2 separate regions of the Homo sapiens genome follow, and region 2 is linked to region 1. Evidence: fine-mapped expression QTL. Tissue or cell type: whole blood. Region 1 holds a variant in brackets; the other region holds the start of a gene. All regions are shown on one strand. Distances are between the middles of the regions.

Region 1 (5,000 bases):
TTGACTTAAATTATTTGTATTAAAATACTACTTAAATGTGGACAAATGTAAAATTTAGTATAAAATTAGGTATCTTTAGTATCTAACACACTATAATTTATAGGTATTTGGATATACATGTGCATTGTGAGTCATACAGTGCTTCCTCTCTTATCAAGTAAATTTAAATCTGATCCTGGGTTTCTCATGAGTCCTTTCTTTTGAAAGATGCATAGGTTCTGAGTAAGAACCTCACTGGGGATGGCAGTGGAGCTGAATAAGAGAGTGACTACTGCAGCCTGTTTTAAGATAGGCCAAGAATCCTAGCAATCTTCTCAACTGTACTAAGTTCACTGATTATTTTTCCCAACTTTTATGATTATTTTTCCCAATTTTTATTACGAAAAATGTCAAACATACACAAAAGTTAAAAGAAAATACATTGAACAATCATATATCTACCACGAAGTTTCAATAAGACAGACTCTTTAAATCAAAAATCAAATTACTACAGTGAAAACAGCCATCCACAGAGCTTTACACTATTGACGATATATAATACAAAATGGATATACAATATCTCCACTTGACAAATGGACTCTTAAGCCATGTAAAGAGGACTACTGTTCCCTAATGGATGCAGAGAGAAAAGTGTCTGGTAAAGTGGCTGAGGCTCCTGGGCTAAGTCTTTGATTTTAGAGACTGTTTCTGTCTTCCTAATTCATTTGCTAATTCTATAGCAAACAGACACTGAAAATCCTTTAAGTGCCATACCCAGGAGCTTTGCTCAAGAGTTTGTAGGGTGCTAGTAGAAAGAGCCTAACAAAGCTTAGAGAAACTCTCTAGACTTAATAAGAGTTTCCATACATGTAGATCTTTCTGGATATGGGACTCAATCAATGTCTTTAAAGGATGGAAATTCTTACCGGAAAGCAGTTGCCCTGATAGACACCCAAAACCTTTAAGCTCCTTATGTCCTCTTCATTGTGGAACTAGAGGTCTGGAAAGAGTGGCTGCTATAAAAGGAAACACTATATTGTATTGTCAGATTGAAATTAAATAGAAGAATTTTATCTATGCATAATAGATCATTTTAAGAGCTACTGTGTTGTTCTCCAAATAGTAATCAGAAATCTGTATTCCACTCTTGAAAAAATGAGCTTTGCTGATACTGTTATAGGTTCTTCGAAGTTCAGATTACTATGAGCTCTGGATTTATAGCAAGTCCTCTGGTGTGAAATGAACTGGTTACAATCCCTGCCATACAAAGCTTCTGTCTTCACATGGCCTCATTCTCTATGTATATCTGTGTGTCTGCTCCTTTTTATAAGGATACTAGTCATTGGATTTAGGGCTCACCCTACTCCAGTATGGCCTCATTTTAACTAATTGCATCTGCAAAGCCTCCCCCTCCCCTTTTTTTTTTTTGAGACGGGGTCTCACTCTATTGTCTAGGTTGGAGTGCAGTGGCGCAATCTTGGCTCACTGCAACCTCCGCCTCCCGCATTCAAGTGATCTGCTACCTCAGCCTCCCAAGTAGCTGGGACTGCAGGTACGTGCCACCATGCCCGGCTAAAAAATAGAGACAGGGTTTTGCCATGTTGGCCAGGCTGGTCTTGAACTCCTGGCCTCAAGTAATCCGCCCGCCTCGGCCTCCCAAAGTGCTGGGATTACAGGTGTGAGCCACTGCCCAGCCCACAGACCCCATTTCTGAATAAGGTCATATTCTGAGGTTTCAAGTGGACATGAATTTTGGGGGACATTATTCAACTCACTGTAAGTATGAAACCCCTATACAAACAGGTGAGTGACGGCAGCTTGGAGTTTTTAATTGGGTTATAAAAGATCATATAAAGGATGAAAGTTGGTAGTAAAGAGAGAAGGTAGCTGTTAAGTTTGATCCTCTAAAGAAGACACTGAGATGATGTTAGGAGTGCAGACGGTTTATTGGGGAGCAAGATCTGTGCAAGGAAAAAGGAAGTAGTTATGCCAGGGAGACCATCAGACCATGATGAAAACCTAACAAGGTCTCTGTCACCCCATGGGGGGCTCCAGAGCAGAGAGTGCTGAAAAGCAGAGTCCTCGTTGGGCAGCAATAGTTAGGCACTTGTTCAGTTGTTGGCTGGGGCCAATCCAGCTCAGCTCAAAAGCTGACAGGGACTTGAAGGAATTAACAGATGGAGGCTGTCAGCTAATCAGCTAATCACTCACCATGCAGCTGGGCAGAGATCCTCTTTTTTTTGTTTGTTTTTTTGAGAGACGCAGTTTCACTGGAGTTTCCAGGCTGGAGTGCAGGGGCATGATCTCAGCTCACTGCCACCTCCACCTCCCGGGTTCAAGTGATTCTCCTGCCTCAGCCTCCTGAGTAGTTAGGATTACAGGCACGCGCCACCATGCCTGGCTAATTTTTGTATTTTTATTAGAGACAGGGTTTCACCATGTTGGCCAGGCTGGTCTTGAACTCCTGACCTCAGGTGATCCACCACCCTCGGCCTCTCAAAGTGCTGGGATTACAGGCGAGAGCCACCGCACCCAGCCAGCTGGGCAGGGCTCTTGAAGGGGGATTCTGAGCAGTTCATCTCCATGTCTGTCATAAAA[C/G]GTGTTTTAGTTTACAGAGAATGACATATACGCACACACAAAGCAAGTTGTGTACTGAAAAAAGCAAACAAATGAACTTAATCCCACATAAACTACGATGGTGTCATGTTGTTATGTATTCTGAAGGCATGTAACATAGAATGGTTGCCCAGAATTAGTCTATGAGCCATAGAGTTTTTGTTGGAAAAGACTACATCACTTGGACTCTCTTGCCCATTTTAAGATTTTGTTTTTTTATTTTACTGTTGATTTTCTTTCATCTTCCCATTAAGGCTCTGGAGAAAAATCAGCAGTGGCTCGTGTATGATCAGCAGCGGGAAGTCTATGTAAAAGGACTTTTAGCAAAGATCTTTGAGTTGGAAAAGAAAACGGAAACAGCTGCTCATTCACTCCCACAGCAGACAAAAAAGCCTGAATCAGAAGGTACTGACTGGTATAAAAATGTTCTCTAGGGATAGGCCTGACATTTTCCAAAAGGAATGATTCATCAAATTTAGATTTTTATAGATATGTGTTAGAAAGTAAAATAAGAGCAAGTCTTATAGCCCTGAAGTAAGAAATACCATTTTTGCAAGTTTTATTTCCTAACGTTTTCAGATCAAAAGAAAGTACCAACACAGGCTAATGGGTGATCTTTGGCAGTTCTGAAATCACATTCAGTTCTCTCTACCCATGAATGTCCTTCCCCTTTTTCAAAGTCCTTCTCCAGCTTTTACTTCCCCCAGAGTTGGCCTTGTCACAATTCTCTTTTCACTTTGCTTCCCTTCAGCACTTATTCATATCAACCCCAGGAGAAAGAATGCCTTTTTTAGATGATCCTTAAATCATTTGAACTTCAGGTATAGAATTGAGATGAAATTTCTCATTCACGATGCTGTCTTTTTGCCAAGCACTTTGCAGTTTCCCTTACATAGATCTTAGTGGAGTTTTAGAGCAACCCTAAGAGGCGGGGCAGGAAAGGTCAGTATTCTCATTTTACAGATGAAGAAATAGGTTTAGCAATTCTAGATGACAAGCTAAGAAAAGAAAAATGAGAAACTCCATGCAATGCTCTCCTTAAAAGACTGACAGTTTGGAGGGGACCAAAGCCTTGAATTTTATAGAGAAGTCTAAAGAAAGGGGAACAAGACTCATAAGATTGGAGAATCATATTTGAATACTTAAAACAAAGCTAATGCTAAAAAGAAACTATAAATGTCTCTGGAGGCACTTCAAAGCTGTCAGCCCTAATGGCACTAAGTTGCTTCTATAAAATATGTGCTTATGTAAAAGCAGGATTTTAGTTATGGGCTAAGTCTAATTTCTTTTCTTTGGTAATACAGTTCTCTCTCTCTCTCTCTCTCTTTCTCTGTGTGTCTGTTTTATCAAAGCAATATAAGCACTTGTTAGAATAATGTAATAGTTAAGAAGGACCTTGCCCTGTCTTTCCCATCCCAATCCCCGTTTCTTCCTCCCATCAGGCAACTGCTCTTAATATTTCTATTTTTAATTTTGATAGTTATCTCCACATATAAATAATGAGCTTGTGTTCCTATTTGTTGATTGAACTTCTTGAGACTTTCCCTCCCAACAGAATAGATGTTACTGTTTTTAGTTCTTCTATTTGTGAGTTTTATAACTTCAAATAGTATACCTGAACTTGTTTTTTATTTCATCAAATATCAACCATAGTCCCTATCTCTTGACTTTTCATGTTGTAAACTAAGGAAATAGTGTGATTCATTTAGATGTTTGATGTTTCTCTTTTCAGGAATATTATTTATTTTATAAAGTGAGTTGTGCCGTAATGTTGTTTGTCATAGGTTATCTTCAAGAAGAGAAGCAGAAATGTTACAACGATCTCTTGGCAAGTGCAAAAAAAGATCTTGAGGTTGAACGACAAACCATAACTCAGCTGAGTTTTGAACTGAGTGAATTTCGAAGAAAATATGAAGAAACCCAAAAAGAAGTTCACAATTTAAATCAGCTGTTGTATTCACAAAGAAGGGCAGATGTGCAACATCTGGAAGATGATAGGCATAAAACAGAGAAGATACAAAAACTCAGGGAAGAGAATGATATTGCTAGGGGAAAACTTGAAGAAGAGAAGAAGAGATCCGAAGAGCTCTTATCTCAGGTAAACTTAACCAGATCCATAATTCAGAGTGTTCACCGAACACTTTCTAAGTGTCAGGGACTATTTGACCACTAGAGAACTGGCTAGGGACAAAACAAATTCCTGCCCCTCATGGGAGTTATATTCCAGAACAGAAACAGACCATAAACAATAAATAAGGAAACTAAAGAAAATGCAACAGGGTGACATGACAAAGGGAAATTGGGGACCAGTGGAGGCCTCTCTGAGGAGATGGCATTTGGACAAAGACCTGATGATGAGGAGGACCCAGTGAGGTGGGTGACTTTTCCTCTCAATGGAGGAAATT
Region 2 (7,688 bases), 33 kb before region 1:
GCACTCCAGCCTGGGTGACAGAGCGAGACTCCATCTAAAAAATAAATAAATAAATAAAAATGAAATATGCATATTCACAAAGACACGCACCACAGGGACACCCACTGCAGTACTGTTGCTAACAGGCAGTAGTTGGGACAACTTATATGTCTAGAGCAAAAGATCAAGAAGGATTCAAATCAAATTGTTCAGAGTGGTGACCCTGAAGGACTAACAGTGGGAGAGAGAAAGAATAGAAGAGGTGTGGGGAGAATTTTCACTTTTTAGTTGCATAATCCCTTCTGGGTTGTTTATCTTATGTCTACATGCATTTTTAATTTTAGAAATTAAAAATATTATATTATTTAAAATTAAAAAGTTTTTTAACAACCTGTTCTGTTTGGAGGACTGTTTGGAAGAATCATCAAGTCTCAGAGTTGAAATTGGTCTCAGAGGTCTGTGTAGTCTAATCTCAGCTAGATTCAGCTTCACAGCCTGGCTGTCCGCATGGAACTTAGGGCAGAATGGCCACCCCTGGCTCACAGGCACTCACTCCAGCCTCAATTCGGATCTGGCTCATGGAACCTGGTGTACCCGAAGGATATGAAAAATTACATAAGCGTTGTGGCTTTCATAATCTACACCTGCGCTGCTGAACATCACCAACAACCATGCACCAGGACTACAGCAACCCCCAGATCCTCCTAGTTCCTACCAGGCCCTGAGTAATTTGACAGCCTCAGAAGGGTCACTCACGGTTGAACACAACTGGGCGCTCATACCTGTAATCCCAATACTTTGGGAGGCCAAGCCAGGAGGATTGCTTGAGCCCAAGAGTTCAAGGCCAGCTTGAGAAACAGAGTGAGGCCCTGTCTCTACAAAAAAAATTAAAAATTAGCTGGGCATGGTGGTGTGTGCCTATAGTTCAGCTACTCAGGAGGCTGAGGTGGGAGGATCGCTTGAGCCCAGGAGTTCGAGACCATGATCACACCACTGACTGCACTCTTCCCTCCTGGATGGCAGGGTGAAACAGTCTCAAAAAAAAAAAAAAAAAAGAAAGAAAGAAAGAAAGGGTTTGAACACGAAAAACTGAGGTCAACTGTAAACCAGTTGGTTGTCAGTACAGCACAATCCCAAGTACAGTGTAGCTATAGCCTAATAGGGCCTCACAGTGTCTATGCGAGCTTCACCATTAACAATCACTTCCCCTGGCCATTCTTCACCGTCTTATAGTTTGAGAAGAGCTGCTTACTGCCCTGACTTTGTTTATTTACCCAAGAGGCAAAATGTTTACATATTTCTGTTAACACAGGGACTTTCTTTGATGCCGCCTTGATCTTCTGGTATGGCTTTTTCCTTTTTTTTTTTTTGAGATGGAGTCTCGTTCTATCTCCCAGGCTGGAGTGCAGTGGTGCGATCTCTGCTCACTGGAACCTCCGCCTCCCAGGCTCAAGTGATTCTCCTGCCTCAGCCTCCTGAGTAGCTGGGACTACAGGCATGGTAGGGCTTTTTCCAGTTTACCATACCCTGCCCCACTCCACACTATGAAGTGTGTCTGCCTTTGTTCCATGTTCCCTCTGATGGACAGTATTTTGCTATAAGTATCCTCAGTTCAGTCAGAACTTAATGTTACTTAATTTTACGCAGTGCTCAAAATTGGGAACACACCTGTAAAGGGTTTGCCATCACCAGGATTTTAAACCACCGACATAGACTGAAAGCAAGAAGAGTGCTGTGTTTGTTGCTATATCCCCTCCAGCACCTAAGGCAATGCATTTCACATCTTGCTGAGAGCAGCTAACTCAATACCTGGAACTAGAAAATTAGAATCTAAAAGACGGAAGGCATCTAAAGACCAGTTCCCATCATGCCACAGCTGAGAAATTGGAGACCCAGGTGGTTAAATCAGATATTGAGTTAATGTCAGCTGGAATGCAGATGTTCCTACTCTGAGTTGAGTGCCCTTTCCTCTGTCAGGTTGCTTGTTAGCTAAATGAATGAATGACTTTACCACTCGATTTGTATGAAAAAAGGAGGCCAGAAAAGAGACTAAAGTTAAATGTGTAATTGTTTGTATAGACTATATTTGCCAACTTAACTGAAGTTTTCCACTTTCAATTGATTGTTTGCATTCATTGACTTAGATATATTTTTCATCATTTAAAATGTTTCATCAATGCATACAAACTCCAGACAAATAACAAGTCAGATTTCAATATAGTATTAACTCCAATTCCTCTATAATCTATAATACTTAAATAATTACATGATCGGACTGATCCAAATATATTTTAATGTCTTTATATGTCAATGATGAAGGATGTAAAATCTTCATATTATGTCTCTATTATGTAACTGCTTCAAGAAAACAAAAAATTAATAAAACCTAACACATGTAAATAAACTCTGACATAACGTGAGTCCATGATATTCACTAGCCAGATTTTCAAACCTCATTGTCCTTTAAGAGCCCAATTTTAAGCTGGGCGTGGTAGTTTACGCCTGTAATCCCAACACTTTGGGAAGCTGAGATGGGAAGAAAGTTTGAGCAAGGGAATTATAACCAGCCTGGGCAACATAGCAAGACCCAGTCTTATTCAAAAAAATTTTTTTAAATTTTTTTTAAATCCAATTTTTGCCCTTTAGATTTTTTTTTTAACCAACCAACAATTTGCCAGCTTTTTTTTTTTTTTTTTTTTTTTTTTGAGACGGAGTCTCACTCTGTTGCCCAGGTTGGAGTGCAGTAGCATGATCTCGGCTCACTGCAACCTCCTCCTCCTGGGTTGAAGCAATCCTCCTGCCTCAGCCTCCCGAGTAGCTGGGATTATAGGCATGTGCCACCATGCCCGGCTAATTTTTGTATTTTTAGTAGAGATGGGGTTTTGCCATGTTGGCCTGGCTGGTCTCGAACTCCTGCCCTCATGTGATCCACCCACCTCAGCCTCCCAAAGTTCTGGGATTACAGGCAGAAGTCACCACACCCAGCCAGCCAGCTTTGAGTTTCATTTCTTTCATTTTCTTGCTCATCCTCAGAGAGAGAGGTTTAAGAAGAGAAATAAAGGGGAAAAACGGGAAACAGAAAGGCGAAAGGTATAGATGCCTCAGGAACTGACAGGGAGTAGCAGTCAGGCTCCTGGAAGAAACGAGAAATGTAGCAAGGCATGGTCAGGAAACACATGTCTATCCATGCTCCCACTCTCTCTGCCTTTCCCTCTCTTTCCCATCCCTCTTGCCAAGAAGTGAGTTGGCAGTCTTACCAATGACAAACAAAATAGATAAAGCCTCCACACTGAGATTTAGAAACCCCACTTTAGCCAAAACTAAGTCACTTACATCAAATTGTACCATGACACCAAGCATTCCTGTCCCCTCCCCTGCAATGGCAATCAAGTGTCATAGAAAAATAGCCTTTTAAAATTACCATGAGCCTTTTATTTTTATTTATTTTTACACCCAGGCTGGAGTGCAGTGGCGTGATCACGGCTCACTGTAGCCTCAAACTCCTGGGCTCAAGCAATCCTCCTGCCTTGGCCTCCCAAAGTTGGCTCAGGGTTGAGGAGCCACTGTGCTCAGCCAACCATGAGGTTTTTAGAGATGATCTTGTCTAAACCCTTCTCGCCTGTTTTGCAGAAAAGAAAATTGAGATCCCAGAGAAATGAAGTAACTTGCCCAAGGTCATTCAGCAGGCAAGATAGAACTAGATCCCCAAATTGCAAACTAGCTGTCCAGAGTTCTTTCCTCAATGAGCAATTTAAAAGCTACAGAATGTACAAAAAAAGCTCCCCAACAGTTTAGATATAAAAACAATTACAAAGGCACAAAAGGGCAGGAAAACTCAATAAAACTATGAACTTCACCCATCCCACCTCCCAGAAACCCAGTGACAATCAAAGCAGCGTCAGGCTGGTTCAAGGAGTAATGGTGTCTCCAACAATTTAATTGCTCTTCTTCCTCCTTTACCCATTTCTCACAGGCAGAGAAAAAATGCATCTAAGACTACTGAAACTTACTTTGAACCAATACAGATGTTTGTTGATACCTGAAATTTAGTGATTCGCAAATACGTTTTCTGCCAAGAGCTTACAGAAATCACACTCTTAGAGCTAAAACATCAGGTCATTCCATGAGTCTCAAGCCCTGGAGAAAATTAAATGCCTTCCCCAGAAACGGGTCCTCTCCCCTGTCCTGCGCAGGTAACAAACGCTGCTGGAGAGACTTGGCTTCATCAGCTGTCTAAATGCAGACTTTTCAAGAAGGTGACTCAAGAAACTAACATTCCAAAACAGGACTTCAGAAAAAGAAGAAAACTTTTTCTTACCCTTAAAAATGACAGAAACAATAGGATCCGGCTTGCCAAATTTCGTTTTAGGGATATTGCTGGCAGATTCCACAATCACTCGCAGCATGGTTCTTAGCTGGTAGAAAGCAAGTTTCAGCAAACGAAGTGGAGACTAGGGCGCTGGAGCTCCGGGTCGCACCGCCCTGGGAGAGAAGTTCTCTCCCAGTGAAGGGAGGATTTCTCCCAGGGCAAGGAAGGGGAAAAGGCAAAATGGGTGGACCTCTGGCGGATTTTACTGAAGGCAACGTGTAAACTGATACCGAACTCCCCGCGTCTACGCAGTGCCGCAGGCACAGACTTATGAATTCGGGAAATGTGGAAGTGAAAAGGACAAACCCTAAACTAAAAATAATTCCGTGCGACAAATGAAACCAACATGAATTTGGAGCTAAGAAATACGGGTAGGTCAGGAAACCACTAAAATGTTGCTGCCTTTTAGCAATGGTTCGTGAAACTGAATTAATTGATTTTTCCGTCACTGCTTTCATTCTTTTCTGAGTTTCAAGGAGTTTTAAAACTTTAGTCATTATTTGCTTTTGACTTTTCGCTGTTACTTCTCACGCCATTGAACACACCCACTCAGTAACCCTATGTTCAGCTTTTTTAAAGCAGCTAAAGGGTGCCTCTTACTGGACGGCAAACGAATGACAGCGTTTATTTCAAGTAAACGCGATCCAGGCATGGGATATATAAATAATTACATATATGTATAAATAATTATATATATATATATATATATATATATATATATATATATATATATATATATATATATATAAAGGACTGAACATAGAATTTCTTCAAAACCCCTTCAGAGGTGAGAGCTGGGCGCCTAAGTTTTCCCGGCTCTTCAAATGCTGCCAATTGCCTTCAGTGAAAATGGAGAAGTGACTCCCCACTGTTTCTGGACCTACAGCTGCCCATGGTGTCTTTCTGTCCCAGAGGGTGCATGAAGACAGTGCAGCTTGGCTGAGATCACAAGAGGCGGCCTGGGGTTAGTCAGCCAGATCTGAGTGTGAGACTCTGCCTCACCACCCTGAGCTACGTCATCTTAGCAAGTTTCTTTTCTTTTCTTTTCTTTTCTTTTTTTTTTTTGACGGAGTCTCGCTCTGTCACCAGGCTGGAGTGCAGTGTAGCGATCTTGGCTCACTGCAACCTCTGCCTCCCGGGTTCAAGCGATTCTCCTGCCTCAGTCTCCCGAGTAGCTGGGACTACAGGCGTGCGCCACCACACGCAGCTAATTTTTTTTTTTTTTGTATTTTTAGTAGAGACGGGGTTTCACCATGCTGGCAAGGATGGTCTCGATCTCTTGACCTTGTGATCCGCCCGCCTCGGCCTCCGTGGCTTGAGCTTTACTGGCTTGAGCTTTACTGGCTTGAGCCACCGTGCTGGCGAGCAAGTTTCTTAACCCCTCTCTTCCTCAGTTTCCTCATCTATGAACTGGGGATAAAGGCTGTTATAAGATAAAGGTCATAGCATAGGAGCTGGCACAAAGCACACAGTAATTTGCACATGTAAGAAGTTCATGCTTATTTGTGGTCTCACAGCGTTTCTGTTAGTGCAGGCTGACTTTAAATCAGGATCTCGTTATATTTCAGAAGAAAAGGCTAAAACTTGGGATGAAGAAACATTGGGCTTCTTTTTGCTTTAGAACACACATCAAGCAGACCCACCTGTAAATAAACATTTCAAGTACATTGAATAAGCATGACTTAACCTACAAGAATTCTTCTGTCTCCACGAGTTTCTCCAAGGCTTAAAGCAAAGAACCAATTACCCAGTGCTGTGTTCATTATTGTATTTAGTGGACATGTTGGCAGTTTTAGTGGAATATAGAGATTATTACTTTTATTTTATCTGGCTGCTTTCTATTTGCCATTTTTACTGTGAAATATATTTACAGAAAAATGCATACTACATAAACGTGACAGTTTAACAAGCATCCAGGTCAAGACAGAACATTGCCAGTCCTCCAGAAGCCCCTGGAATACCCCATATATCATATCCACCTCCTTCTCCCAGAGGTAACCACTCTCCTGATTTTTTTTTCTTTTTTTAGATGGAGTTTCACTCTTGTTGCCCAGGCTGGATTGAAGTGGGGTGATCGGCTCACTGCCACCTCCACCTCCCGGGTTCAAGCAATTCTCCTGCCTCAGCCTCCCAGGTAGCTGGGATTACAGGCGTGCACTACCACACCCGGCTAATTTTGTATTTTTAGTAGAGACAGGGTTTCACCGTGTTGGCCAGGCTGGTCTCAAACTCCTGACCTCAGGTGATCCATCCACCTCGGCCTCCCAAAGTGCTGGGATTACAGGCATGAGCCACCATGCCTGGCCCACTCTCCTGATTTTTATGGTAATGATTTCCTTGCTTTTCTTTGTAGTTTTTACCGAAAACAACAACAACAAAACAGTTTAGGTTTGCTTGCTCATGACCTTTGTTTGGTGATATAAATTCTTTTGTATGTTATGAACTTTACATACAACACATATATTCATATATATAGGTACACACATACATGTGTTCATACTTTGTGAATTCTTTGCTGTATTATGACTTTATAGAAATGGACTCATACAGAATGGATTCTTTCGTGTTTGACTTCTTTTTTCTCAGTATTATATTGTGAAATTCATTCATGTAGCTCTACTTCCTTCACTCTTGTTGCTATATGGCATTTCATTGTATGAGTTTCTGACATTTTATTTATTTATTTATTTTGAGACAGAGTCTTGCTCTGTAGCCCAGGCTGGAGTGCAGTGGTGCGATCTCGTTTCACTGCAACCTCTGCCTCCCGGGTTCAAGCAATTCTCCTGCCTCAGCCTCCTGAGTAGCTGGGATTACAGGTGCACACCACCACGCCCGGCTAATTTTTGTATCTTTAGTAGAGATGGGGTGTCACCATGTTGGCCAGGATGTTCTCGAACTCTTTACCTCGTGATCCGCCTGCCTCAGCCTCCCAAAGTGCTGGGATTACAGGCATGAGCCACTGCGCCTGGCCTCCAGATTTGATTAATTCATTCTACTACTGCCAGACATTTGGACAGTTCAGGGAATGGGGCTATTACAAACAGTGCTGTTCTGAACAGTCCAAGACTGTTCTGGCACAAATGTGCATGAGTCTATTTAGAGTCTAATCTATGGGTGGAATTGCTTGCTGGGCCAGAGAATGTATGCATTTCTTCACCTTTACAAGGTAATTCCAAATTATATTCCACAATGGTACTCTTGCCAGCAGTGTATGAGACTTCCTGTTGTTCTAAATTTTTGTCATACTTAACCAATGTTAGATTTTTTACATTTGCCCTTCTGGTGAGCATATAATAGCATCTCACTGGAGTTTTAATTTGCCTTTTACCTATTCATGTGG

Evidence for each region. PIP is the estimated chance that this variant, and not a neighbour inherited with it, causes the effect.
Region 2: MYOF starts here. The variant in region 1 is fine-mapped to the expression of MYOF in whole blood (TOPMed, PIP above 0.99).

What each region holds. Positions count from the first base shown.
Region 1 is chr10:93,512,556-93,517,555 of GRCh38, forward strand. It overlaps CEP55 (centrosomal protein 55), which reads left to right. Exons shown (of 9, transcript NM_018131.5): 5 at 2,850-3,000; 6 at 4,380-4,693. Among named protein-coding and RNA genes, the nearest start is that of CEP55, 18 kb to the left of the region's middle. The variant C/G (reference allele first, on the strand shown) is at 2,578.
Region 2 is chr10:93,477,810-93,485,497 of GRCh38, forward strand. MYOF (myoferlin) reads right to left here and starts at 4,525. Exons shown (of 54, transcript NM_013451.4): 1 at 4,298-4,525. The coding sequence starts at 4,385.